Regions from separate parts of the Homo sapiens genome. Here all the other regions are reported to be linked to region 3. The links are microRNA targets in miRTarBase. Many come from high-throughput screens and were not tested one by one. Region 3 holds a microRNA gene; each other region holds the end of a gene's coding sequence.
The links. Region 3 holds the annotated microRNA hsa-miR-452-5p (AACUGUUUGCAGAGGAAACUGA, at 1,860-1,881, shown strand). A microRNA usually pairs through its seed, bases 2 to 8, with sites in the 3' UTR of a target mRNA and lowers its output. Matches are read on the target gene's strand: a 7mer-m8 pairs with bases 2 to 8, a 7mer-A1 pairs with bases 2 to 7 and ends in A, and an 8mer does both.

Region 1: the mRNA of SEMA6D is a reported target of hsa-miR-452-5p. Seed matches in the 3' UTR shown: 7mer-A1 at 4,493-4,499, 7mer-m8 at 3,633-3,639, 7mer-m8 at 3,264-3,270 and 7mer-A1 at 2,704-2,710.
Region 2: miRTarBase lists RHOU as a target of hsa-miR-452-5p. The part of its 3' UTR that is shown has no 7-base or 8-base seed match.
Region 4: miRTarBase lists RTP4 as a target of hsa-miR-452-5p. Seed matches in the 3' UTR shown: 8mer at 3,493-3,500.

What each region holds. Positions count from the first base shown.
Region 1 is chr15:47,768,557-47,776,576 of GRCh38, reverse strand. It overlaps SEMA6D (semaphorin 6D), which reads right to left. Exons shown (of 19, transcript NM_001358351.3): 18 at 7,829-7,996; 19 at 2,349-6,080. The coding sequence ends at 4,792. Among named protein-coding and RNA genes, the nearest start is that of SEMA6D, 55 kb to the right of the region's middle.
Region 2 is chr1:228,740,785-228,748,804 of GRCh38, forward strand. RHOU (ras homolog family member U) reads left to right here. Exons shown (of 3, transcript NM_021205.6): 3 at 2,501-5,880. The coding sequence ends at 2,956. Among named protein-coding and RNA genes, the nearest start is that of RHOU, 9.3 kb to the left of the region's middle.
Region 3 is chrX:151,957,559-151,961,558 of GRCh38, reverse strand. It overlaps MIR452 (microRNA 452), which reads left to right and starts at 1,847; the gene lies at 1,847-1,931. It overlaps GABRE (gamma-aminobutyric acid type A receptor subunit epsilon), which reads left to right. Exons shown (of 9, transcript NM_004961.4): 5 at 194-276; 6 at 1,583-1,720. MIR224 (microRNA 224) reads left to right here and starts at 2,901; the gene lies at 2,901-2,981.
Region 4 is chr3:187,371,019-187,375,018 of GRCh38, reverse strand. RTP4 (receptor transporter protein 4) reads right to left here. Exons shown (of 2, transcript NM_022147.3): 2 at 2,943-4,000. The coding sequence ends at 3,646. Among named protein-coding and RNA genes, the nearest start is that of RTP4, 4.6 kb to the right of the region's middle.

The sequences.
Region 1 (8,020 bases), not on the chromosome of region 3:
TAACAGGGAGCAGGCCTCATGCATCCATAAACATACTACCAACCAAGCTATTGAACTTGCAATAGTTAAGCATAGCATTCATAAAATAATAGAATTTGCAGAGTTGACACAGACCATAGAACTGTCAGAGACATGGATGTCAAATCATCTCTTTACCAAAGTCAGGAGAGGTGGAGTGCCCCTTAATCACTAGATGAGTGATGGAGTGAGGATTAGAACTCAGCTCCCTGGACCTGGACCTAGGGCTGCTTTGGACACTTTGTTCTTTGCCGTCCTCTGACAAGGAGATGAGAGAGACCAGCTGGGAGAAGATGAGAAAGTTGAAATCTCTCTGATGGCAGGAAGGTGAGTCCTGGTTCCAGACCAGCACCTGGGCCATCATACCACTACCTGGCAGAAGAAGAGATGCCCTTTCTTCTTAGCCTGTATCAGCATTTCAAGTGTTCCATCTGGCTTCAAAGTTGCCCCTTCCCAGGGTAACCAAGTGCTTAGTCGATGGCATTTCTGGAACCAGAGCACAGTGCCTTGTCCTGGTTATTGTATTTGTCCCATTACTCTCTGGTTTTATGGGCTCCCTTTGAAAAAAGTCCCAAGTTCCCTTACCCTACTTCTCTCAAATGGGATCTGAGCATTTATCTTGAGGATTCATAGATGTGATTTTAGGGGACTGTAAATGTCCTGGAGAGGAAAGGGAAATGCGCCTTTCAGTCCATAGCATTCATTAAATTATCAAAAATGTCTATGATGGAATAAGGCTAAGAACTTCTATAAGGGAGAAAAGAAAGGTGCATTTTTTAGAAGAGAAAAAAATCGTTGAACTCAGAAAAACTAGTAAACAGGCAGTAGGTATAATAAACACCAATTTAATGGAAACAGGCAATGCAAATGAATGATAATGCAATGCTAAAGAAGCCTAGGAAGAGGCTGCGTGTGGTGGCTTATGCCTGTAATCCCAGCACTTTGGAAGGCTGAGGTAGGTGGACCACCTGAGGTTAGGAGTTCGAGACCAACCTGGCCAACATGGTGAAACCCCTTCTCTACTAAAAATACAAAAATTAGCTGGGCATGGTGGTGAGTGCCTGTGCCTGTAATCCCCGCTACTCAGGAGGCTGAGGCAGGAGAATTGCTTGAACCCGGGATACAGAGGTTGCAGGGAGCCGAGATCGTGCCACTGCACTCCAGCCTGGGCGACAGAGTGAGACAAGCTTGGAGATGCATTTCCCTTGTGTCTTCTTTCATCCATTTGTTCGAAATCTGAGTTACAAATTGACTTCTGCAAGTCAGTAAGATGGGAGACACCTTCCACCCTCTTCTCCAGCACTATAATGGTGTGCACTTACGCAGACTTCCTTCCAATGATAGGGTAGTTTGGAAGGCCAAGGTCAGGTTCTGTGGCTGGTGGCACCACCTGTGGTGCCAGGAGCTGTGAAATGGGGCAAATAGGCCATCCCCTGGTCTTCTTCTCTCACAAAAAGATTCCTTCAAATTTTTCCTCATGTCTCTGGAGTATTGCATGCTATGATAGGAATAAACAAGGACTTCTGATACCACTAAATTGACACTGAAATGCAGCACCCCTAATTAGATGACACTATCAAGGAGAATAAGACTCGAGACAGGAATATGGCCATTCTGCTGTTCAGCAAAGATGCTGCTGAAGCTCCTTGAGAAAACATGACCACATGGGAGCTGCAGATGGGCTTTGGCCAGGAGTAGCAGCTAGAAACAAGAGGGCAGGGATTGCTACAGCCTACCCCTGTTGTCTCTCTCAGAAGTGGCCTGCCACTGTCAACATCCACGAGAAGCAATGACAGCAGCCACCAACTCATTACGTGCTAAGAGCAAGCCATGGAATCATATTGTTACCTCTCATTTCAATATTTAGGGAAGAGAGCTCCTAATTTATTCTATTTGTTTAAAACAAGGGAACTGAGAAACTCCTTATACCAAATAGCAAGAAATGTTCACGGGAACCCTGTTTGCCAGTTATAATTTTGAACTATTACGTGAAAAATTTCACGCAGGAAAACAAATCATGAATTTTAAAAATGTCTGTTGAACTAGATAGATCTATGGACAATGTGAACCACTACTGTTTGCCTAAAGCATATGACTGTTGACGTAGTACAGTTCAACTGGTTTTCTGAACAGTTTCTCATTTTTTTCAGGGGCTCTGACCTCCAGTGTCAGCCTTCCAAGGAGAGAATGGTAGTGTAATCATGACTGGAGAGCAACTGTTCCAGATAAGAATATTTTGGCAGATTTTAAAAGCAACTATTACTGGTGTTGATTGACTTAAAAATATTTTAAAAATATAACATGTTATAAACCTCTTCAATATCAAGAGGCAGGATATAATGATTTGTATATTTTATTTTGACTTTACATGCGGTGTTAAAAACCCAAAGTACATATTATTTACACATCCACAATACAAGTTTACAAGGTATCTATTCATGTTAAAGTACTCTATAAAACAGTATAGAGACACTTCACTTGAGGGTTACTTTTTATGCCGTACCATTAAAAAAGATACAATCTGCGTTTACCTTTGCACAAATGGATAAAGCATTTAAAAATTAAATTAACAGGATAGAGACTAGATTTAATGTTAGAAATTTCAACATAAATACTGATTGAACTCACATTACAAACTACAAGGAAGCACAATGTTACAAAATGTTATCTGGGGTCACATAGAGTTACTGTTCTGTTTTACACACGCTGGGATTAATATTGGTAAGGTGAATTCAAACACGTTTGTTGTTGGTGGACTGAGTAGTGTTTATCATTGGTTGGTTTAATTTATTATTAATCTGTAATATTTTAGTTGCAAAGCTGAAGTGTTTCAAGAACAGAAATTTTAGCTTTAGCGCTTCCAGAGATCACTGGAAATCACGTTCTTTATAAAACAATGTTCTTTAAAAAAAAGAATAACTGTATCAGTATTTCACATTCTGTATAAAAATGATCTGGTCTTCTGCAACATGTCCTCCCCCAAGTAATAGGTACCAACAGTATTGTCAAAAGAAATCCAGTTGAACTCATTTGCCTGATTACAGCAGGAGCATACCTCTGCCTTGGTACTTTCTAGATTTGGTTCACTAAACAAGTGTGTGGTGTGCAGCATATTAACTGAAACAGTCAGCAGGGTTGCGCATCATCAGCCGTAAGTGGTTTCTGCCAAACTACGTATAAATGACGCTCTATAGTTTCTGCAGGTGTCACATTACCCAGGAAACCTCATTTGAGTTCACATTATCACTGTTTCATCCTTAGGAAAGCAGGAGTGGAATGTTTATCACGGCAAAGAATGTAATGCTGCTATGAGGTCGGATTATGTAACAAATAATTGTCCTAGGTTGTTTCTGTGATTTTTTGAAAAGAGTCTTTTTAGGTGCTGGTTGAAAAACATTTACAACTGGCACTCAGTAAATAATGTGCTATACTGAAAACACTTGACAGATTTTAGTACTTCTATCATTCTCATGAATAAGGCACAAAATGCACAGATTCAGGTAAACTCACATGTGGTATTTACAGTATATTGTCATTACCTGCATGACTTAGGAGAAAATTCTCACATAACACAACACAGACAACATGATTGCACCACTGTTAGGTTTTTACAGACTGTTTCTGTTAAGCCAATTACAATTCCTTTCATATGTCTTTCTTTTGTCTTCTATTTTTGTTTGTTTGTTTGTTTTTTGTTTCTTACCTTGGGGGGTAGGAGGAGTTAAAGGAGGAGAAATTTTACTATTGGGGGGGGGGAAACGAACACAATCAAAATAAAACCTTATTAGTGTGTCCAAGGTTAAATAGAGTGACTCAGGCTTTGATTCACAGTGGACAGGAAAATTTTACTACTGAATACTGGAAAATAAATCAAGGATACCTCTTAATATCTTGATCTCCTTAAGCTGGCAAGACTGGAATACAAGTTTTAATGAATAGCAGCACAAAATCACTTGCAACTCTTACATTCTGGCATTGGGTACCACATAAGTAAAGTTCATCATTTTGATGGTCAAAGGAGCCTCGATTCTATTCCTCTTTCAAAGCTGAACCCAATGGACTCCTGTGGGAAATAGTATTGTCTCTCGTTCGGTCATGCTTAATGTAAACAACTCCATAGCACAAAAAGATGCAATGGGCACCTAAACAAATCCTAGTGGGTACAGAACACACACACACACACACACACACACACACACACGCACACACACAACAAGTTTGTTGGTGGCATGAAAAAGATGCCACACATGAAAAAAAAATGCTACAGCTTGGGTCAAAGATTGAATTTTTAGCAAACTGCTTGGTAATCTACAAGTTCATTTCTTTGAGATATTACCATCTTTTTTTTGACATTTGTGCAAGAGGCAAGGTGAATGCATACATATTAAAATGTTCACATTTAATGGGAAGACCACACATAATGGCAGTCTACATTGAACCCATTTTCAAGTATTTGTTCACAGATTCTTCTGAGTACTGTTATCAGCTCTTTATACTGGTAAGGTAGCCCCTGTGAGCTACACATCTCTTTAGCTTCAAACAAAAGAAATGGAATGACCAGCACCTTCCTTTGTTTTCAGGCAAGTACACAGAAGCCTTGCTGCAGTAGCTACATGTGGCAAGTTCTGATGTTGCCAAAGTTAGAAAGAGTTTCTTTGGCCACTTGGTTCTCTTAAAATACAAGCGAGTCTCTTGTTTTAAGGTACCCTTACAACATCATCCTCTCAACAACACGGACAGGATAAAGCCACATGGGAATAGCACACTTGAGGCCTAGTATGTGTATTTGTTCAGTGGTCTGACAGATGGGGTTTGAGGAACAAAGGAAGGCTTTGGTGGCACGTCAGGTTTTAAGGACGGCGTCCTCTTTAGTCCCGTCCTAGGAAGAGTGCCATTACTGGTGTAGCTGCTCTGTCTGGAGAGGGAAGGCTGCAGATGAACACTCACTGGTGTTCCCTGAATATAGTCCACCTTCGCCCCAGTGGGGGTGGGCATATATCCTCCACGGTTCATACTAGGCTGTCTGGATAACAAAACACCATTTGGTGAGTTTAAGTTTTTAGGCATAGCAGATATAGAGTGCCTCTGGGAGGAATTTTTGTGATAACCTCTTTGTCTTTCCAGAGAAGTCATTGGGACTCCAGGAGTGGTGGGGACATCCACTCGCTTGGTTGGGCTATTTCTGGGGAGAGTTGAAGGAGGGGAGTATAGCGATGCCTCCCGGTTAGGGACTTTAGGTGGGACCTCAGACATCGATCCCATGGGATCCAGCATTAAGTTCTGGTGTGCCATCTGGATGTCTCCCATGATGGCTTTGGGGTTACTATTTGGGTCATTCAGATGCTTCAGGAGATCATTGAGGGTATTTCTGGAATCAACAGAACGCCGGTGATCTCTCTTACTGGATGACTTTGTGAGAGGGTGATCAATGTTTTGAAGCTTCTTTTCAGCTTTGTGAGCATTGGAGTTTGAGAAAGACGTGTTGTAGTCATGGGTAGCATTTGGAAGAACAATGGCACTGGGGATATGCCCATGACTTAATGGGGAATGAGGTGGCGGACTAGACGGAAAAAACTGAGGGGTTTCTTTCCTTGAAGCTCCATGGCCATGGGCCTTTTCTGAGTGGCTCTTCATGGCCTGCAGGGTCTTCTGGTGAAGCACGGGTGTAGACTCAGGAGTAGGAAGAGCAGCCAACTCTGGAGGTTGCCCTCGATGGTCCATTACCATGGATTTAGTATCTCCATTGGGTGGTAGCTCTTTCCGACTGGTTAGCAGGTTACTATACAGTTTAGGAGAATCAATATTCTGTTGGTATTCCTTGACAGGGCTGTCAAAGAGACCATTCAGTTTGGCAAAACTTCCACTGGAGTCTGTGCATGACTGGGCGGACTCTGCATCTTTATGGATCTTTCTGTTTTTCCGAACAAACATGTCTCGATAGCAGTATACTGCCACACCTGCAATGAATGCCCCCAAAACAAAAGCAGCAAAGACACAGGTGATGAGGACATTCATGTGGACCATCTGGTTGGACTCTCCAGACTGGACTTCCCATCGTACACCTGAAATAGACACATGGGACAATGTGAATAAGGTGCTTTTTAAAAATAATAATAAATAGCAAATGGCTTTCAGTGAGCCAACACGACCTTCATATGGTTCATATGCTTAGCTCGGAGGGTCAAGTAGACTCCAAAATTCCTTGTATATTTTGTCTTTAATCAAACTAGGATCCCCAGAGACATACAGGATTGCTGCAAATGCCAGGATAACTCTAATCTCCCACTGATCTGTATTCTTCTGTTCTTTTCCTCCAATCCCTCATAAATAGTTGTTACATGTTAAAAATGTAAGAGTTTCTATCTAAAAAATAGTTAGAAGTGTATATTTTCTAAATAGCTAACTTTAAACTCATATGTTTTGTCTCATAATTTTCTCTTAATTCAGGATTAAAAGGTAGCTACTAGGATATAGGAAAATGTAATAATTAGCATAAACATATGCTAAAATAATTACTCTGATACAATTATACTAACTTTAATATGAACATATAATTTGTTCACAAACCAAAAATATCTGCTTGATCACTGTTAGCTATAAATAGAGACTTTCATGTTTGCTTGGATTTTTTTTTTCATTCCATCTTGGGGTGAAGCACTCTTGAATGACCGACTATGTAAGAAACCCAGACAGTCTAAGGAAACATACTATGTATTAGTTAAGTAAACTGTCAAATTATCTGAAGATATTTGAAAATATTTAAATTAGACCTAGAAAAAGAAGAGCAAATTAGTTTATAATTACTGAAATTAAACTTAACCTTTTAATGCAACCACAGACATCTAACAATTAATAAAAAAAAGTTAGTTTAAGAGGTATTCAAGTCTGTTACATGCTATAAACACAGCTATCCCAGAGTAAGGTAAGTCAGAGTGATTTTGAAGATTCTGTTGCTTTAAGTTAGTACTAAGGCCTTTGAACATTAGTTGTTTTTAATTAATGTTTAATTAATGTTATGGAATTCAGTGGCACTGTGAAAGACCGAGAAAGAAAAGTAGAAAAAAATGGTGTTACTAAAGAAAGCAAAGCAGAAAGAAGAATGATTATAAAATTGGTTACAACGAAAACATATAAAATGAAAATCAACCGATATAAATCATAAATGACAATGTGCTGCCATAAAAACTGATTGGAAACCTGATACCATAGTTTAGTAAGTACTAAAGAATAGATTTTTTTTTCCTAGAGTAATATATTTAATAAGCTAACTCAACAGGCAGCTATTTTATAACTGCTCCTATTACGGGCTGAAAATGATAGTTATGGACGAGCACTCTGTTATGTTTTATTGCTTGTGGCATTCAAGCAACTTAGCATCTCACATATCCTTTTCAGATTGCATTTTGAATTGAAGCTAAACAAGAGTCTGGGAAAGGCTCCTAGACAAAACATCTGATATCAGGATATTTGCAATTAATGAGTTTTGTTTTTTGATGTTGCTGCGGTGACCCTCGAAATTCCCTGAAATCCAGCAGGCTCTCTGCTTCTTCAGACAGAAATCAACACAGATTAGATTGTCTGAGTGGCTGCTTCACCAGCCTTTTCTCCAACAGCTTTCCACCTCTTTTATCTTTTAAGGAATGCACTCAGATATAACCACAGAAAGCCAGAGAGACTGTGGCAAGGGGCGGTGGAGGTACAACCGCAGAAGCTCCTGTGAGGCCCACCTCTGGAGAACCACATACTCCTCAGTGACATTAAGGATCAGGTTTCCACGCAGTTAGAGATGAGGTCCCTGCTGAGGCCTTACCCTTTGGGATACCCGATAAAGGATCAGTAAAATCAGAAGTGTTTGGATCATCTTGAACTACAAATTTCCGAGAGCTTGTCAGTTTAGGTCTCCAGGTATCAATCACTTTAGGTGTGATTTCTGGGATACTTGCCATTGTGGTAACAGAAGATGAAGATACCTCCATGTCTGTGGTGGCAAACAGATTTTTAT
Region 2 (8,020 bases), not on the chromosome of region 3:
CCCACAGAAGTTGATGGGAGCAGAGTATGGATGGCTCTACATGCTGAAGAAATCACTTCTTGTACTTTGGCTTTTCTTGTTAGGGAGGGTAGGCGAGTCTATAAGATGTCAAAAGGAGTTTTTAACACTGGTCTTACATCACTCAAGGGCAGATTGATCAGAGACAGACTGGAGGCTTGAAAAAACATACCTTTGGCATAAGAGAAAAAAGTATTGCGGAAATAGGAGTAGTTCACTGGAGAGTTGCCAATAGAAGCTGAAAATTCTTCAGCCTTTTGACCCATAAAGTACTTGGAAAAATCTTATACTGAAAAAAAAAAATCAAGTTGCAGCTAGACCAGAGGGATGTAGAATCCAGTCTCGTCTCTCTGCCCCGCCAACCCTGATCAGACTTCTGTGCAGTGTCCGTACCACAGACCTGGCAAGCACATGCAAATTGCTTGGCCTCAGAACGCCTTTTCTTAAGGGTGCATTCCAGTTGTCCTCATTGCACGTGTGTATTGCATTATTTCTAAGATTTCAGGTCAGGCACTGAGCAGGAGGGTCTAATTTCTGTTTTATTTCTCAAGCCCCTTAGCCAGAATCTCAAGAGATCTGGGGAGATAGCTTTCCAAAGCCCCCTCAGAAGTCCCAGCCCTTGTGCTTGCCTTTATTTTTCTCAGTAATGCAACCCCAGATACCAGGGCATGGCCAGGGGTGCAGCTACCTGAGGGGGCTGCCTTAATACTGGTCTCAGTTTTATGCTTCTTTCTTTGAGGCCCTCTAAGAACAGAGGGAGCATTCCATTAAAAGATCTTCATGACTGAGCCATAGTCTACCTGGCTGTGTTTCTGTGTTTATTTATTCATCACAAAGTTGGCATGAAGAAACTTAAGTCATTATTTTTCTTTTTAAAAATTTTTTTTAGAGAGCAGGGTCTTGGTATGTCACCCAGGCTGGTCTCAAACTCCAGGGCTCAAGTGATCCCCCTGCCTCAGCTTCCCAAGTAACTGTGACTATAGGCACGTGCCACCACATTTGGCTAAGTCATACTTTTTCAACTTTCGCTTACAGAAGCCTCACAAGTGACATTCTGAAATACCACATTGATTGCTGAGCATTTTAGCTGGTTGACTTTAATGTGATTAGTTGGTTGGCTGTCGTCCCGTAATTGAAACATGGGGCCTCAAATGAAGAAAGTACATTCAAATAAGTTACAGGTTTCTTTTATACCAAGAGAAAAAAGCCACGGATGGAGTATAATGTGATGTAAATGGTACTTGGTAAATAATCGGAGTGTGTCAATTGAGTAATGAAAAACATGAATGGCGTTGAACTTTTTCTTGTCATTGGGAAATTATTTATACCTGAGGATGGTTGGCACCAACAGATATACATTTTACATAGGAAAGAGTAAATATTTTTCTACAAAAGAGTTGAGCAAAAGTTGTCAGTTAGCTGAATATGGTGCTACAGGGAACTATAGGATGTTTTCTGTAAAGAAATGGTAATTTGGAGAACAACATCTGTCTGTTCACAGCCAAATCCCCTCGCCTGCCACTGTGCCTTGAGTGTAGGTGATGTTCAGTGTGTCTGTTAAATGGATGACCACGGGAGAGCATTGGCAGCACAACCGTTGGTTTATTTGTAATCAACTCTAACTTATTCTATCCACTTCTCTATACTTTAAGGGTAGGGTGGGCGTGCCTATTCTCCAGTTCTTATCTGTCCAAAGCACTGTACATGGAGGCCATGGGTACTGGCAAGGATAAAGGAAGTAGGAGAAAATGAAGGAAGGAGGGAGGAAGAGAAGATACAGCCAGAATGAGGATGTATTAACTAGTGTCTGTAAGTGGCACTGAGCTGCAAAAGTTTTCTGAGTCACGATGACAATGGACTGACAAAGGTCCTCAACTCCATTTCTGGTCTGGCCTTGAGTCTGATTAGCATTACTCTGCGTTGCTGTGCATAGTGTGGGCAGAGCGTGTGCACAGTGCAGATGGGATGAAATTGGCATCACTCAGAGCTGTTGGGAAAGGCAGGGCTGGATTGATAAAGAGAGGAGCTGTGTTCGTAGACTGGGTTTGAGTGGGAGTCTTGAGGATCAATATGGGTGTGGTCTGAATTTTAGAAGAGTAGCTAAGTACCAAGAGTTGAGAGTAGGTTTGGGTTACACTCAGCTGAAGGCTTAAGTCCATTTTATTTCTAGAACCCACCTACTTTGAGCACTTTTTCTATGTTAAGCTGTAAGTAGGTCTTGAGTGTCGATGAACACGTTGAACATGTTTGGCAGTGTTCAGACCATAGCTGGCCCTGAAAGCAGATGGCTGCCACACCTTCGCTGGTGCACTGGCCCCGCTTGGGTAAACAGTAGGATCGTTTCAAGGATGCTGGCTCTTCCTTCTAGAACCAGCGGGTCTTCTATCACCTGCCAGACCCTTTCATGAAAAATGTGAAGGTGATCTTTTTACTGATGAGAATTCATGAAAACATAACTTTTGGGTACTTTGCTTGGTTGCAGGATGAATTTGACAAGCTGAGGCCTCTCTGCTACACCAACACAGACATCTTCCTGCTCTGCTTCAGTGTCGTGAGCCCCTCATCCTTCCAGAACGTCAGTGAGAAATGGGTGCCGGAGATTCGATGCCACTGTCCCAAAGCCCCCATCATCCTAGTTGGAACGCAGTCGGATCTCAGAGAAGATGTCAAAGTCCTCATTGAGTTGGACAAATGCAAAGAAAAGCCAGTGCCTGAAGAGGCGGCTAAGCTGTGCGCCGAGGAAATCAAAGCCGCCTCCTACATCGAGTGTTCAGCCTTGACTCAAAAAAACCTCAAAGAGGTCTTTGATGCAGCCATCGTCGCTGGCATTCAATACTCGGACACTCAGCAACAGCCAAAGAAGTCTAAAAGCAGGACTCCAGATAAAATGAAAAACCTCTCCAAGTCCTGGTGGAAGAAGTACTGCTGTTTCGTATGATGCTGGCAAGACACCCAGAAAGGCTATTTTCAGATGAAATCGATATTAGAAGCTATATTAGCTGAAACAACTCCTTTTACTGCGTAGAACCTATATCGAGAGTGTGTGTATATGTATTATAGGAGGAGCTCTCAATTTTATGTATTCTTTCTGCCTTTAATTTTCTTGTTTGTTTGAGCTTAGGGATGAGATACTTATGCAAGATATTTTTGAAGTAAATTAAACATTTTTCACATCTCTGGAAATTTAGAGTTCTAGACCTCTGGTTAATTTATATCTAATATGAAGAAGACACCTCTAATCTGGATGTTAAGAATGAAGTTCTGCTACATTATAATGTACAGAAGAGCAAAAGGGAGGAACACTATGGTTAACCCTCTCTTGATTAAGGGCTACTTAATGCACAGTGCATTATGTACACAGGTCAACCATGGTAACAATAGTTCTTAGCTTTGAAACTCCATGCAAACCATGCCTTTTTTTTAAGGAGCAAAAATCTGAGAAAAAAAGTGAGAGACCTCTGCCTACAAAACCTCAAACCAGTCACTTTTGTCAATTGCTAATACCCAGTTACTTATGATTTAAAAACAACCAACAGAAAACATCCCACTGACTGTATGGCACTCTGTAGTCAAAAAAGGAAACTTCCTTATTGGGACTTTTCTTTCTTAGTCCAGTTGTGTTGACACATATGAACACAGACAAAGTGCTATGCGGAGGAAAGCAAGTGTTGGTCAGTAGTTTCATGTTTTAGGGAGTGGTTCCTGTGGAGATCAGAAAGTGACATTTGCTTTCGGTACTGTAATACGTGCACCAAACTGCCTCAATCCTAGGTAACGAGGGCAACAGGGAGCACCTGTCTGGATTGTTTTTAAACCTCCATACTCAAGCTGTCTCTTCGGCAGGGAGGTGAATACTCTTGAAAGGCCAACAGCAAGTGTTTGTGGGACACAACACAGATAATTTTTTCTTAAGTCGGCCAAGATGTACTTCTCTGTGTGCACACCCATGCACACTCATGCACACAGATACATAGGTCTGTATGGCTGTATTTGCTGTTGATTCAGACTTTCACACCATTAATGGGGAAAAGCGTGGCCACAAAAACAGATGCTAGGAAGCTTGGCTTCCTCTTCTTGTTGACCCTTTTTTGAACCAACATCTTTTTTATTATATTCAGAGTATGTTTTTAAGTGTATCTTAATATATACATTTTTTAGGACATCTTAAATCTAAACAAAAAATAAAATGAACATCTCTTGAAACCTGTTAAAACAACCAGTTAAAGCCACAGATGGCTTTCAGGGCAGTAGCAGCAGAGGCCAGTGGACTCTGAGGACTCCTGAGGGGCGGGGCGTGTAGCCAGCCAGGTGCATGCCGGGACCATGGCCCCCATACTTGGCTGCTTCCTGTGACAGTGAAATACATCCTTCAAGGTGGCAGCTGTTAGGGCTGAATCTTCTGGAGAAAAAGGTGCCATCTCAGGAGAATAGCTTTTACTCTGGTAGGAATGCTTCCGAGACACCACAAGGCAGCCTGAACACTCAGTTGCAGGGTCGGGCTTGCGGTGGGTGACCCAGAGCCACCAAAGTCACATCCACAACTAATGAGGGAAATCTGTAAAGCCAGTTAGATAGAAGAATTTTATTTTTCTGTGGGTTTTGTGTTGTCTTTTTTATGTTAAAAAGAAATCCAGTTTGTGTTTTTCTATAGAAAAAGTAAAAGATCAGGTTATACTTTAGGTTAGGGGTTCTATTTATTCCTGTTAGTAAATAAAATTAACAAATTTCTTTGTTTAACAAAAGATTAATCTTTAAACCACTAAAATACATAGACTGATTGATTATTCAACACATTGGAATTGATGTCGGTCATAGTTTCCTGAAGCATTTAGTTACAACCTGAAGGAATAAAATGATTTGTGGAAATGCTTAAAATAGACCTAACTGAATACAGTCTCATCTTGCCGCGCCTGGCTTACCTATCTGTGGAAAGCTAGGCTTCCCAGGCTGGGCTCTGCCTGTCTGGTGCCTGGAGGTGTGGGAGGGAAGATGAGTTATTTAACTGGTAAGCGATTTGAAACACTATTTTTATATTAAAGTAAATGGCATGGAGTATAGTGCAAATTCATTTTTAAGATAGAACACAAAACTTGAAAGAAGTTTTATGCGTGTGACAGTGTATGGGGCTGCAGTTGGTCTCCCTGGAGGGGACTTCCACACCTCCTGCCTTTAGGCCATGGGTGGAAAGTGCTCAGTGAAGTACACCTGTGTGGCCCAGTTCTGAAAGCTTTATACAGTTGAATTTTAAGTGGGGTTGATAACACCTTGGACTGTTAGTGTTAAAAATCTAGTGGGTTGACCTTTAAATGCAACAGTTTTTAAAATATATTGCTGCATTTTATAGAATAGTAAAGGTACGATTATACTTGAGATTTTCCTCCATTTTTATTTCTTCGTGAACATAGAGTTTGGGGCCGAAAATGTTTTTAAAGTATGTGTTTGAGTTAAATATAAAGTTGGTTCACTTCAAAGCTAAAAAATTGTTAAACTTGCAGCTTGGTATTGCAGAGAAGATTTTATAAGAATTTTGCTTTAGAGAATGCCACTTTGGCTGAACTACAAGTGTAGGCCACCATTATAATTTATAAATACAGCATACTTCAAAACTGTTTGTTATCTCTTGTTACCATGTATGTATAAATGGACCTTTTATAACCTTGTTCTCTGCTTGACAGACTCAAGAGAAACTACCCAGGTATTACACAAGCCAAAATGGGAGCAAGGCCTTCTCTCCAGACTATCGTAACCTGGTGCCTTACCAAGTTGTGCTTTTCTGTTTTCAAGTGTAAATGATGTTGAGCAGAATGTTGTACTTGAAAATGCTATAAGTGAGATGGTATGAAATAAATTCTGACTTATGAATATAATGGCTCTTGCCTTTTCTATCTGAGAATTTTGTTGGAGGTGTTTAGCCACATCTTGAAGCAGCACTAGTTGGGAAGCATCGTGGCTTACCCTGAGAGGTGTTTTGGGAATGCATCTCCAACCAATTTGAAGTGCTTATTCATTCAGCATGGGGTTTTCTGAATTCTGGAGCCACAGTCTGACAATAAGCACCCGCCGACTACATGTTCCTCACAGACTGTGTGCTGATGTCCCAGTGTGTTGGAGGGAGCACTGTTCTTGGAGCCAAAAGTCTGGGCTCAGAGAAGCACTAGTGTGAGATGAAGCTGAGACAGCCAGCGATCTGAGCCTTGGTTTCCTCATCTGGAAACAGTACTGCCTTTCTCATCAGGCTATCTGAATCCTGAACATGCAGAGGAGACATCCAAGATCTGTAAATCACCATGAAAGAGGTTAGAGTCAAAGGCACCATGAGCCCTTACCAGCTGTAGAGCTGAGGACCAGGGTTCCCAGGTCCTGAGGGTGCGGAGAGGTGCTGTTGTGTTCTGTGTGATTTCTTCAGGTTCTTGAAGTCAGTCGGTTTTCCCATCATGCCGTGAGGATGCAGCCCTTTTACTGAGGGCTCCGGGAAATGGGACCCTGGGGAGACGACTATTCTGAGGGGCTGGAAGTCTTCTTGCTTTCACCCTCCAGCCTCAAGGTCATCCTGTGAAGGATGGAGCCATCCACTTTGCTCCACATGGCACTGCATAGGCCATGATATAATTTTTATGAGTACCCACCAGATGTTCAGCCACAATGAATGGGAAGACTGCATGGCATGCAAGTGAAACTACTGTACCACCTAATTCCACACATGACTGGGGAGTGCCAAAAGCACCCCAGGCACTGGTTTCCCGGCCTCCACAGGGCAGCTGACCCCAGCCCAGAGGGACTCAAAGGTTTCTCCACACCCAGTCCCAGTCTGTCTCCCGTGTCCTGGCTGGGCCTTCCTGGGACACATGGAAAGCGCATCCAGCCACTGTAGGAGAGGTGACCATGTGATTCACTGAGACATTTATGGATTCAAAGGGAGGGAAGGAATGAGAAGCATCTGGGAGAAAAGTGTTCTAAAAAGAAAGAAGGTTCAAAGGCCCCAAGGCAGAAGGGCATCTGGTATGTCCCAGAGGCCAGTCTGAACAAGATAAAAGGAGTGCAGAGAGAGATAGGGAGATGATGTCAGGATGGTGATAATGGGAGGTGATGGTGGCAACCAGGGACATGGGGAGGAGTCAGGCTGCTTGGGCTTGAATTCTGGCTCTGCCACTTACTGGTTCTGATTCCTTAAGCTACTTAACCTTTTAAGCCTTCTGAGTCCAAACAACTTTCTAACCTCCCAGGTGGATAAGCATGGCACCTACCCAATCAGCTGATGCTTTCATCCTCTGATCAAATGAGGTTATGGATGTAAAGTGCTAGTACACAGTAAGCACTCAGTAAATGCTCACTCTGCATGGTCTTCCTAGTAGACCCCTTTCAATGATTCCTTTAATTTCCTTCACAGCAGGACCCTCAGTCCATCAGCTCAGGTCCCTGTGGGCATCCCACTGAGATGACAATTGACTCCTAAGGGTTTCCATCTTCATTTCTATTAAATTTTATGAGGCTTACACTTTTAATGGATAACACCACATTCATTTTTTTTCATTTCCACTCATTTTTATAAAATCAGAGCAACATTATATAGATCACACTCCTTGTTGCACAGGCTGGCTCTGTGGAACAAAGCTGCCGCGGCTGCTGCTGCTGACCTGGTGGAACTGTAGGGGGTGGGCCACCTCTCTGAAAAATGACAAGTGAATCCTGCAGATGGTGAAGCAGGGAAGTCTGAATTTGGTGTACAAAGGTAGTTTAGGGAGTCAGTAGGCAAGGTTGCAACCCAGGCATCATGTGGAAGTCATGGATCTGCTGTGTTCCCCAGCCTTATGCTGGGCTGTCCCTTGACTCTTGTCGTGCAAGAAGCTTTTGCTGCGGACTGGCACATTCTTACAGTTTTACAGTCATCATTTAACAACCCGAGTCACCCAACCACAGTTTCCCCTGTTATCTGGTACAATGTGCAATACTAATAGTAAAACCAAGTCTTGAAGAGGCATAGCTTGCACATGAAAGATGCATG
Region 3 (4,000 bases):
GGAGGCAAGAGGCTGCAGTGAGCTGACATCACGCCACTGCCCTCCAGCCTGGGTGACAGAGTGAGACTCTGTCTCAAACAAACAAAGAAAAAAATTGACTCTGGCCATTCATTGGTGGTAGTCCCTAGACCAAAGCTGGGTGGATACGGAAGTGCTTAGGGCCAGCCTGATGAGGCTCCTTTCTCCCTTCCAGGATGACCATTGATGCCGGATGCTCACTCCACATGCTCAGATTTCCAATGGATTCTCACTCTTGCCCTCTATCTTTCTCTAGCTGTGAGTACCTTCTTAAGTTTCTGGGGCCCCAGAAACATGCTGGGCTCCTTCTTTTTCTCATCCTTGCCATTTACATTTTTCTGCCTCTGCTTTTCTTCTAAAATGCTGCCAAGGTTGTGCAGGACTTCCATCCTCCACCCTCATTTCCTTTCCTGCCAACAATACTGTGTTGCTCATCCCTTCCACGTGCCTCTGAAGCGTATCTCAAGTATGTCTGCTCCTCTCCATCTCCACTGGCACTACCTTGGTTTAGGCCTTTGTTATCTTCCACCTGGACTTTTGCCACATCTTCACTTTGAAACTGCACATGTCCAAAATGAAATTCATTGTCTCCTCCAAACCTCTACCACCAAAACAAGTGTGTTGCTTCTGGGTTCCCATCTGTCTCATTGAAGAGGACCATCACTCACCCAGTTGCGCAAATCAAGAACTTTGATGTTCCCTCTCCCTCACCTCCTGCATCTAATCAATCAGCACATCCTGTTGGTGTTTCCTCCCAGTCTCTATCGATGCTGTCTATTTCTCTGCACCCTGTACAGCTTTGACTTCCACCTGCATTAATTTAATTCTGCCTGGATTACTACACTGGCCTCCTTGACAACATGTTGTCCTCACAGAAGGACCAGAGTGACCTAGCTGAAGGGTCACCTAGGTTGGGTCACTTCTTAGTCTCGAATCTGCCGTTAACTCTCATGGATCAATTTGAAATTCCTTAGAATGAACCTCAAGGCCATTCATGAACTGGACCCTGCCACCCAATCCTGTGCACCTCATCCTCTGTGAGCTAGCCATCCTGAACTTTTGTCCTTTCCACAATACACCAGGTGTTTCACCTTTCTATACTGCCCCTTAACCCCTTCAACCTCATTCTTATTGAGAATATTTACTTGAGTTTCAAGATTTAATGGGAATATCACCTGCTTTATGAAGTCTTTTCTGAGTATGTCCCCAAGTGACCTTTATCTACTTTGTTTCCCCGCTGTTCTGTGGACATAGGTTTTTCAGAGCTCCTCCAAAAATCACAGTAGTATACTCACTGTCTTATAAAATTAAATGTGATTGCTTGAGGGTAGGGTTCATGCCTTGCTCATCTCTGTATTTCTGGCCTAGGGCCTGATACTGAGGAATGCTCAGTAAACGCACTCATTGAATGGACTTCAACAATGAGGTAAGAGAGGCAAGGTCCCACAGCTGGTGAGGCCAGAGACAGGACTCCAAGGCATTGTGCAGGCTGACTTCATGCTATTGGAGACCTCAGGTGGGCTTCCAAGTCTCATAAGACCCTCTTTCTCACATTCCTTTCCAGTTTCCTATCCTGAGAATGAGATGATCTACAAGTGGGAAAATTTCAAGCTTGAAATCAATGAGAAGAACTCCTGGAAGCTCTTCCAGTTTGATTTTACAGGAGTGAGCAACAAAACTGAAATAATCACAACCCCAGTTGGTAAGCGTGCCAGGGCTTGGCGGAAGTCCAGGAAGGTGGTAGGGATGATTGGAGATGGCCATCCATACAAATGCTTTGCAGTCATCCCGTGCAAACATTGTAAGACATGGCTCCTGTCTTATAATTGCTAAGCACTTACAACTGTTTGCAGAGGAAACTGAGACTTTGTAACTATGTCTCAGTCTCATCTGCAAAGAAGTAAGTGCTTTGCCAAGCTCCTTGAGAGGTTAGGTAAGTAGATAAAGTTCTGCTGCTGTCGGAATGTGCAGCTGGCTTTTTCATGCAGACCCTTCAGTTTCGAGGTTACAACTCTGACCTCTTTGGATGACTTTGGGGAATGGAGCTCGTGTGAGTTCTCCATACCCAGAACCAATCCAGTCTGGTTGAATGGGAAGCAAAGTCCATTGTAGTGGGAGGTGGAGGCTAGAGTTCTAATGTCAGCTAGTTTAAGGCTGGGAAAGTCTGGAGGAAGTTACAGCAGCTACACTGGCTGCTGCATTGACATTTATCTTAAAGGAACAAGTCTGAAAAGCACAGATTCTTATCAAAGGCTTCATGGTGGATTCCACATAGACATAGTGGCCACTGGTTTTCTGACCTTTTCTCTGACAAAGACTAAAGGGGAAGGTCCTGGGTATCTTACACTTCAGCTCCCAATTAGATGTGAGCACCTTCACTTATGTTCCTAGGTGACCTGAATGAGGAGCCAAGGGACCTCCCCAGGGTAGCTCCCAGAGCAACCCTGGAAACACTCTTCACACATCCTGACCAAGTTCAGGGCAGTGAAGGCACTGCCCTCATCGTTTCCAGAATGTGGATGGAGCCAGTCACCCAACCAGCCATTTGTCGTGAGAGGCATCTTGTTCTGCTACCATGTGACTAGGCAGAAAATCTGCTTTTGTTTCATTTATTGAGTCAGTCTCTGGATGAGGGAAAGCTCATGCTCATGTGGCTAGAGCTTTGCTTGCACAGTATTAGGCAGGGGCAGAGGGCTGGGCTACCTTAAAAATACTTGCCCTTTTTCTTGGGGACTCTGGGGAAGCGGTTTTACTACCTTTGACTTGGGAGCCTTGCTCTTCTGCCAGCTAACCATGGGCCTGCCTCTTGGTTTTCTGCACCTCAGCTTTTCCCGGATAGGTGGGGACCCATCATCAAAAGTGACAGAGAAGATAAGGCCCAGGGGCTTTCAAGTCACTAGTGGTTCCGTTTAGTAGATGATTGTGCATTGTTTCAAAATGGTGCCCTAGTGACTACAAAGCCCCAGAGCCAGCATCATCATCAAAGCAATGACAGTAGGTAAGCACCAGACCTCCTTGGGAGTGAGGAGGATTCTTGAGGAGAAAAGAGGTCTTCTTTCTCCTCTGCTGGAGACTAGTTGATCTGGAGACGTGGTTCCTTCAATGTCAGAGTTATCTTTGGGACTGGTCTCAAACTCTTCCAGTTGGGCCCTGGGGCAGGTCTCTCCATCTGGAGCATACTTACGTGCTCGGCGATTAAGGGTTCAGAATGCAGTGGTAGCCTGCTACTCTGGCCATCTTGGACCTTGATCCAGAGAATCTCTGCTTCAGGAGCTTCTAAGAGAGTCCAGCCCTGCCTCCAGAGAGAGGCTTGCCCTTCACTGATGGCTGTGGAGCCTCTGATGGAATATTATTGCTGGTCAGGAATTCACTGTCTTACAAGGAGGTTTCCTTCTTCTCTAGACAGTTCTGTTCATCAAAAAACTCTCCCTGTTCTTCTGAAATTGGAGTCTCTGGAAGTTCCACACATTAAGCTTAGTTCTTTTTCCTTGGAACTGTCCAGGTTACATTAGTCCAGCCACTGTTTCACAGGACCGAGATTAAACGATCAACATCATCATTCCCGGCATGGATCATAGTCTGTTGTAGTCTACATAGCCCTAGTTTATTTTTCTTCCCTTATTCTTCAAAGCTTTGGGTCCATTCATTCTTCTAGTCCCAGTCCTCTGGACATGGTCTATTTAATTGTGTCCCTCTGACACTGCAGTGACCAACCATGATCTGGTCAAAGAGGATAAGAGTTTGAGCAGAAAACCATCTTTAGCATATATTTTTTTGCTTTGGTTCATCAGCCCCAGATATATTGTTTTCCTTACCCGTGCTTCTCTCACTCCTCAAGAAGAAGAAAGTGTGTGTTAGCATCTTTCTCTTGTCCTTCAAGACAAATTGGCATCTCTTGACGAGCGGAGAAGGTTCTTTTTTGGCCAGAATAAATAAAATTAAAATAGAATCATCCAACAGAATAATAAATCTTCGTGCAACA
Region 4 (4,000 bases), not on the chromosome of region 3:
TTAGCAAACTAATGCATGAACAGAAAACCAAATACCACATGTTCTCACTTGTAAGTGGTAGTTAAATGATGAGAACACATGGACACATAGAAGGGAACAACTCACAGTGGGGCCTCCCAGAGGGCAGAGGGTGGGAGGAGGAAGAGGATCAGGAAAAATAAGTAATGGATACTGGGCTTAATACCTGGGTGAGGAAATAATCTGTATAACAAACCCCCATGACACAAATTTACCTATATGACAAACTTGCACATAGACCCCTGAACCTAAAATAAAAGTTTAAACAAAAAAGAGTTATCTTCCTGATCATCAGAGGGAAATAGGACTACTATTAAACAATGGGTGTGGGAAGAATATGTTTGCACCCAACTGATTCACTGGCGCATCTCTTGGTATTTCCCTAAGTTTGATAATATTTAATAGATGGACAAGGGAAGAAGCCACAGACTGAGAAGGACGTGGTGACCCAGGGCTCACAGTCCTCACGATAAGCATTTGGATAGCCTTATAGGTAAGCCACCTAAACCAGCAGAGGTGTTAGGATAAGGAAAATCAAGAACTGGAGGTAGAAAAAAGAGATTATGGGTGTACATCTGCTGTCCCAAGACCAGATGCAGTGGTAGGGGCTAAATTTATCCACTAACCTTCCTCTTGTATGTTTCTGCCAGAAAAGAATCCCAGAAGACCTTTCTCCAGATGTAGACTTTTTATACAAAGCAAGTAGATTTGAGTTTTGCAAGATGTGGATTGTAGTGGAGGCTGTGGTGCACCACTCACATCACTTCCTTGAGGACTAAGGTGCTCATTGTCCAAGCTTTTGGGAACATTGCCTATTGGATGCTTGTAGCTGAGACTCTACCACAGATCTGATTCCAGCCAAAGGTAGCTGTCTCATCTAGGGTTATCCCAAAGGATGATGTCTAATTCTTGTCTAATGAATATTATACCCTCTCTTACCTCACTGAGGTATAATAGTTTTACTTTTTAAATGTTTTTTTGGCTTTCTTATCCTGTAATCATCTCTATTTCTTCAGAGTCTTTTTTGTTTTAACCTTTTTTCTTCTTTGCCTTTATATTAGGGGACTTTATCAAACATTTGAGAATCCCTTGGCAGTCTGTCCAGTCACATTTAAGGTGCAAATATGAGACCTTAAAAAGCCACCTGCAAGCTCTGGCGGAGGAGATTCCATCCGATGGGTTCACTCTGAGGTTATCGGAATTGGGGCCCCCACCCCCTTTCAATGTACATATTTTCTTTTATCTTGAGCAGATCCATTTTTCTAGAAAAGGAGTCCTCCACTGTTATGTGTCTATGAGGGATGGGCAGGTAGGTTATAAAACAGCTCCAAGGGCTGATAGTGGGGTAAGAGGGTCTCATTAGTCAGTATGTGAACAACCATGGTCTTTTTGATTGCTTGTGGCTCCTCCTCTCTTAAGGATTTCCCTGAGCCATAGTCCCTATGAGAAATGTCTTCAGAGAAGCAGCCTCCATTCTTCTCCCTCAGTTGGGTAAAGTGTGGTTACGAGGCTGCCTCGGAGAGGGGAAAGAAATTTGGTATAGTCTTTCAGCCAACACTCCCACTTTTGCCTTCCCAGTGCCCACTTTCAGAGCTACTTCATCCTACAGTCTGGAGCCTTTCTGGAATTGTGCAACATGAATCACATCTTGGTTTTTCCACACTAAACTTATATTCTGGCTCACCCTACTCTGCTAAGTCAGTTACCTGCCACTAGTCCATCAGTGTTCTATCTTCTAACCATTCTCCTTGCCCTTCTCTATTGATGCCTTTATTTCCTTTTGCTGTCACTCAGTGTGGTTTCAAGAGAGATCAGAGGTAAATATATGTGATCAACTCTCCATGTTTTACCCCCACCTATTTTATAGATGGAGAAACTAAGGCCCCGGAAGGGATTATGACTTGCTGAGGTCATACAGCATTGCTAGGCTATAAATAATATTTTCATGTAGATCCCCAGGCCAATGTTCTTTGTGAAGAAAACAGGAGGAATTCAGGAATTCAATAGTGTGGTTTGGTTTGGGGAGGGGGTATGTATACAGAGAGAGCACTGGTAGGGGGATCCTGAAATAAAATGAAGAGATGGGCAGAAAGAAGGGAGATATTTTCATCCTTAGGTCTTTTGGTCGCTTATATTTGTCTTCAAATTCTTTCAAGATATTTATTGTGTACAGGACCCTCTTTCTGTGTTTCCCACTATTCTATTGCAAGACAGACTTCTCACTATTTCTATTCTGTACTCCATTCTTTCCCAAAAAATAGATGGTATTTTAAAAATGTGGTTCTACTCAACTTGCCCATATCCTCAAATGCTTGCAATGACTCCACATTGCCTATGGGATAAAGTCCAAATCCCCTCGTTTTTCAATAATTTTGAACTAGGTGAGGAGAGAGGATGACAAGGAAAAGTAGAAGGAAGAGATGGGAGTAACTTGACAAAAGAAGGGAATAAGTGTTGCTGATCAGGAGAGGTTGAAGATGACTCTGAGGTGAAAAGTTTGGGCGACTTGGGGGATTTAAAACAGGAGAGTCAGAGGCGTTGAGCTTGGCTTTAAACATGACAGCCACACAGAAATGCCTAGCAGACAGATGAAAATAGGAGGTGAAGGATGCATCAGAGGATCTCAGGATTGGCAAGTTCTTCTGTGATTCCCAATCCAATGCTGAAAGAAGTGAGAATATGATAGCTCCAAGGATCATCAAATCAAAGGGAATCTCTTTGAGATGGAGATATTTGAGTGGGTTTAAGTAGGGGAGAAAGAAGAACAAGAGGAGATGGGGCTGACTGGTATTTCTAATGTATAAAGTGCTCTTTTTTCTATCAAACCTGAAGCATACCTAAAACATAATTCCCTGATTCATACTGTAGTATTGATAACTATATTCATTTCTTATTGCTTCTCTAATAAATTACCACAAACTTAGTGCATTAAAACAAGACAAGTTTATGAGCAAGCAGTTCTGAAGGTCAGATGTCCAAAATCAGTGTCACTGGGCTAAAGCCATGTGCAGGCAGGGCTGGTTCCTTCTGCAGACTCCAGGGGAGAATCTGTTCCTTTGTCCTTTTGGGTTTCTAAAGGCTGCCTGTACTTTTTTGCCTGTGACCTCTTCCTCCAACTTCAAAGCACTTCAACCTCTTGTTCCATTGACAAATCTCTTTTTTCTGATTTTGAGCTTGTTGCCTCCCTGTTACAAAATCCTGGTTCTTATCCACCCGGACAATATGAAATAATCTAACCATTTCAAGGTCCTTAATTACATCCGCAAAGTCCATTCTACCATGTAAAGTAACATGTTTACAGGTTCTGGGGATTAAGTCATGCATATGTTGGGAGACACCATTATTCAGCCTCCCACACTTTCTGAGCTAAGTATATTGATATCACTGAGTGACTTAGTGAATGAATGATTGAAGACTTTTTAGCAATTCGACAATATTTATTACTAAATCCATTATGTACTTGGTCATGTTTCATACTGTTTTCAGAGGATGGCTAGGAAACCAGTGTTTATTCTACAAACTTGATCCTGCTTGGTCTCAAAATGAATTTTCAGTTATATTAAAGTGGCAGCCAGTTCATTGACTACCATGGAATTAAAATAAGAGAAAGTGGCAAGCCTATTTTCATCATTCTGATGTAAAGCATTTGACTACAATAAATACAAGCAGCAAAATAAAGACACAGATGTTCAGTGGATCTGGGTCTCGACTGGGCCCTAATTTCTCATACCCACTCCCCTTAGCCTCTTTTGCCTCAGCTGACTGGTTCTTGGCTTGGTTTGCGAGGTACACAGCACCAATTCCAGGTGAGGAATTCCCAGTCTTTAGGTGGGGGAGTAGGGATTTGGACGGCTTTGTCATGCAGCTTTTTAAGCCCTGTCCACAGATGCCCAAAGTGCATGCCTCACAATTGGCTGTGTCATGGGATCCTTCCAGGGACACTTCCAGGATTACTGGCATTTCTGGAGACTTCCTCGTGCCA